Regions from separate parts of the Homo sapiens genome. Here region 2 is linked to region 1. The links come from fine-mapping of genetic effects on gene expression. Tissue or cell type: whole blood. Region 1 holds a variant in brackets; the other region holds the start of a gene. All regions are shown on one strand. Distances are from middle to middle.

The links. PIP is the estimated chance that this variant, and not a neighbour inherited with it, causes the effect.
Region 2: CWF19L2 starts here. The variant in region 1 is fine-mapped to the expression of CWF19L2 in whole blood (INTERVAL, PIP above 0.99). The same link has a PIP of 0.9 or more in NK cells, lymphoblastoid cells, monocytes, monocytes after LPS, monocytes after interferon gamma and skeletal muscle.

The regions. Positions count from the first base shown.
Region 1 is chr11:107,268,553-107,271,237 of GRCh38, forward strand. All of the region lies in intron 1 of LOC105369477 (a long non-coding RNA gene), which reads right to left. Among named protein-coding and RNA genes, the nearest start is that of CWF19L2, 190 kb to the right of the region's middle. The variant G/T (reference allele first, on the strand shown) is at 1,114.
Region 2 is chr11:107,456,432-107,459,116 of GRCh38, forward strand. It overlaps CWF19L2 (CWF19 like cell cycle control factor 2), which reads right to left and starts at 1,394. Exons shown (of 18, transcript NM_152434.3): 1 at 1,281-1,394. The coding sequence starts at 1,385. RefSeq lists an enhancer at 1,173-1,678.

The DNA.
Region 1 (2,685 bases):
TTTGTATTTTTAGTAGAGATGGGGTTTCACCATGTTGGTCAGGCTGGTCTCAAACTCCTGACCTCAGGTGATCCACCCGCCTTGGCCTCCCAAAGTGCTGGCATTACAGGCATAAGCCATCACGTCCAGCCTAGCTTAATCTTTTCTAAGATCAATACCATCTTTCTGGTGAACTTTGTCTCCAAGCACTGCAAAGCACTGCATCTAATTCAAAGATTCTATGTCTTTGGTGAAGAAGGCCAGCATTGTTGACCTAAGTCTGTAGTATCTGAGTTAGGAACAAGACCTAGTTTCCTCACGCCTGGATGTGAGGTTTATCTTTACATGAGAGCAAGGGACGTTTATGTAATCCTCATTAGTGCGGATGGCTGTTCTGACTCCAACAGCCAGTGCATCATTGCAAGAACAGTTGCTTTAATCTCTAAAGAAAACACCAAATAAAATGCATTTTTTTAAATCAAGGAAATAAGGTTCCGTCAATGCATATTGTCCAAGTGACAAAGGATTTCAGACAGCTACGTAATTAGCCTCTAATAGCAATATACATGAGAATGCAATTTACTTTTCATCATTCTTGTTCGGGTCATGAATTGAAATCACAGTAGGAGCACAAGGCTGTCAGGGATAAAGCAAAGGAAGAAAACAGGACTTGGCTGCTGGGAATATTCACACCCAGCCAAGAAAACATGCCAAATGAGGCTTAAAATGAACTTTTCCTGTGTGCATTTCACAAGTTCAGACCAAGAGGAAAAACAATTCTTCCCCTCCCCTACCCCCACTTTAATACTTTAACCATTGGGTGAAATATACCATAGTCACATGTATACTGTCTGATTGTGATCCTATACCCTGCACTAGGGGATCTGTCAAATATTCAGTGGACAAGTAGAAGAGAACTGAATTGGGAATCTGAAGACCAGAGACTTAGTTTTTGTTCTGTTACTGACCAGTGGTCGACCTTGGGAAAATTACAACCTCTCGGAGCTTCAGTTTTATCATCTGTTAAATGAAGATAATACGTGACCTGCCTATCTCATCCAGCTATTATAAATCATGTTTTCTCTTCATAGTCAAGCCTCTAGAAAAATTGAGTAGTCACAATCTTGACTTCTT[G/T]ACCTTTCATTTACTCCCCAACCCAAAACTGACCCTCCACTGAAATGCTAAGACCACTGCTGTCAAATCTAACAAATTCTCAAATGCTTTTCAACCTTTCAATTAATCTCAGATTCTTTTGACAGTGTTAAATGTCACTGTTTTAAAACTTCCACCGCGATTGACTTTCATAACAGCATCCTCTCCATTCTCCTCTTTAATAATAGTGTTCTCCATGGCTTTGTCCTTGGCCTTTATTTTTTTTCACTATCACCATCTCTTCCATTATCTCATCCAGGCTATGGTTTCAACTACTTACCGTGAGTTGATGCTCCTATTTATCTACAGGATCACCCCTCTCCTGAGGTCCATTCTGCTCTTGGAAATATCCTCCAGAACTCCTTAGAGCTCTGAAAATTCAAAAACTCTAAAACCAATTCATTTGGTTCATCCCTCCTGACCACACTTCAAACCACTTCTCTTCCTGTGTTCCCTTCACCCATCCAAAATCTGGGACTCAACCTTGACCTGTTTTCAAAATTCTATCTCCAAAATATTTCTCAAATGTGTCTCTTACCTACTATTGCCACTATCTTGGTCCAGATCTTTTTCATCTCTTGACAGCATTGCAAATGCCTATAAACTAACCTCCCTTCTCTAATGTCAGGTCCTTCTGTGGCATCCTCCACATGGGTGTCAATGTGGGCTTTCTAAGCAACAATTTATCTCTCTTCCCTACCTTTAGATCTTTAATGATTCCCACTACACACAGATAAAATCCTAACTTTTGAATATAAAACAGATGTCCCTTTATGTACTGGGTCCTTCCCACCTTGCCAGTATCAGTTCTTGGATCTCCTTCATTGTCACCTTATTTACAGCCACCCCCAAATCCTTGTCATCTCCATTTGCTATATGAAAACTTGGTGATTTTGCACTGGGTTGCTCCTCTCTGGAATGTTTTCCCTTCTTTCCTGCTGATTGAAAAGATTATTCATCCATCAGGACTCAGCTCCCATGTATCCTTTCTTATTAAACAGCCCCTGACCTTCCTCCTGCTCCCATCTTCCTTAGGTAATTTAATTTCCTTCACAATAGCTTGTGCACACCTTTATTCTAACATGTCACCCCAGACTGCAGTTATCTCATTATCTGACCTTTTCTGAGGGTAGGAAAATCAAGTCTTGCCTGTATTTGTAATATAACGTGCATCACAACAAGGCTTCAGTAATTTCTAGATCTGACCCCTGCCATTTGCTTCAAATGATCAAGCATTCACCTAATCTCCCGGGTTTATTCAACCTATTATCTCCCTCCTAGATCCTCATCTCTCTGTCTAGCCTTCTTGAACCAATAATCCAATTGGATAATCTGCCCAGGTTTGATGTAGGTTAGTCCAAGGCAGCTGGCTGTGAATTCTCCTATTCAGCTCCATGTTCTGAGAGGGGGTTATGTCAGCTGGTCCCAGGTTCCTAGGAGGGCAGCCCAGGTACAGCACCATGAGCACCCATCTGTCAGGTGTGAGAGACACGAGAGAGAGACAGAGAGACTGGGAAAATTGGACTCATTATCTCATTTTCTAATAGCAACATT
Region 2 (2,685 bases), 190 kb after region 1:
AAGAGAAAAGAATGAATAATATATATATACCCACACACACACATTACATATGTTGAAATTACGAAACAATACCAACATTTCACCTACCCAAGACTAATCGCCCACTCTTCCCCTTTAAAACCTGGCTGTAGTCATTTTCTTTTTTTTTTTAATCAAATATAAAAATAATTTATTAAAGGTTTATATCAGAGAACTGCTGAAGCAACAAGAACTAGAAGAGTTAATATTCCAGAAAAGGGAAAATCATGGAGAGGTAGTCCAACATTCTGCAGCTAGCTTTTCCCTGGGTGCATATAATAATTCTTGGTGTAGGCAAGAAGATGAATACAATGGTTATATACCAAACAGAAAAATCGATATCAGAGAAAAGAGCAGGGCTTATGATGGACTCCAAAGAACAGGGTGAGAAAATTGGAGATTAAAGGAGAATGGGGCTGCTTCACCCTCAAATTATTTGCCAAATTTTGAAACTATGTCATTTTCCCTTTAGAGTCTCCTCTCCCTCTTCTCTGCTGGCTCCTTCTCATTTGCATTTAAACTTGTTTAAAACTCTTCCAACTTAAATAAAAACAAAAACCCTCACTGAATTCTCTGTTGCTCTCCAACTGCAACTTTTCTCTTTCATTGCCACACTTCTTACATATTGAATAGATTGTCAGATAATTCAGAAGCTTACTTTCTCCATTCTTTGTATGTTACCTCTATGTATCTGAAGTTTAGTGAGAAATACAATGTTTCGCGATCTTTTGTGACAGGCTAAATATACTGAGATTGGTGTTAACTTTTGTTTGGATTGGTAAGAGCTTACAGTAAGTCTGGAATTGATACCAATAGAGACAGGAGGAGGAAATGTCAAACTGAGTCTATTCAAGTGTGACTTGAATGTGTTTCCGAAAAAGGAAAATCTCATTTCAGATACAGCAGTAGCAATGACTGAGGCTGCGAGACATGCTGGCAGAGTCCTTACAAGCCGCAGGGGACCTACAAAGTGTGCAGTCCGAGTGATAGAAATGTAAAGAATGGGTAACTTAAAAGGTAAAGAAACTTGGAGAAAAAGCGACAGATCTGCCTGAAAAGAGAATTAGCAACTGGCACCTGCCAGAACATCTAAAAAATCGGTAGCTACAAAAGGGTTTACCGGCATTGCAAAGGGAGAACTCACCCAAATTAAGGTGAGATTCAGTACTGACGAGGTAAGGGAAGGGGTGAGTGGGCTAGCTTACGGGAACCCTCAACTCCCACAACAATAAATAACTACAAAAGCCCCAAAACAGAGGTACCTGGCGCAACACCTCGGCCCTGGCATTCCGGGTCTGTTCTTTCCGCTCTTCGATACTCTTCGCACTTTCAAATCTACCACTAGCAGCCGCCATACTTGTTGCCATCGTAAAGCTAAGAAGCCGCAAGAAAATTCTAGTTTACGACGGTCGTAATTTAACAAACAAACCGGGACTTCCGGACCCGAGGAAGGAGGAGCACGGCTCCACCAACAGGGCATGCGCACATCTGAGGTCGCTTAGGGCTCGGATTACCGCAGCCCAGATTTTAAAGACCCGAAGGGTGTTGGAGGGTTTAATTCTTTCAGGTGTTGGGTGCGATTGTGAGCAGGATTAATACCCGTATATATTTATTATGCACTTTTTACTATATTAACAGCTTTCTCACCAATTTCGTCTTAAAATCACCGGAGTAAGTTACAAGCTCTTGGAAGTTAAGTTGGTACCTCTCAAAAGTTTTCTGCGGAAGTACCCTTTGTCGCCAGAGCATCATTTCCCTGTGCTGGAGGAATGGGATAAAGGGAGGCTGCCAGAAAGGTAGTGGCAGCTGGCAGGAAGGACAGAATTGCCTTGAAGATTCAGTGTTTTGTTTTGGTGGATTTTACTTAATATATGAAACACTCATGTGAATTTTGCATTGCACTTCACAATTTACCCGTGCTTAACTTGTTAGAAGTTTACATTATATTTTTTCCTCTGACCCCATATTATTTACTCATACTTATCCATCCAAGCATTTTTCATTACAATGGACAGTTACTTATTTATTTCTGCGGAGATTTCTTTGTTTTGTTTTACGCATGTATCGCCCAAACATAAAACTTTTAAGTTCAGAAGAATAAGACATTCTAAGGTGATGAAGTGCTTTGAGAACATAAGACACTAAGCTTACATTTACAAGAAGAAGAAGGCTGGGGAATTAATTATAAACGATACCTTAAAGACGCTAAAAATAAGTAACATAAGCCAGGTTGAGGTAAATACTCTTTCTCTTCAGGTTTCATAAAATTTAATGTGTGTTTGCAAGAAGCTTTCCAAGAGTTTTTACATTCACTACCATTCTATGAGTCTGAATCTTGAACACACAATGCCTACTTGTTTGATATGCAATAGAAAGTATTCATTTTATTTTAAAATGTAATTTACTAATCGACCTTGTAATATTTAATCAACTGACTACATTGACTGATATTTGTCATAACTAGCATCAACGTCTTTTCAGATTCTCTTGGAATTCAGAAAAACATCCATTTCACTGTTTTGCATCAATTCAATAAAAATAAACTGTGATTATATTAGAAACGTGTGTGTTTTAATCAGTTCAGGCTGCTATAACAAAATATTATAGAATGGATGGCTTATAAATAACAAACAAGTATGTCTTACAGTTCTGGAGGCTGGATAAAAT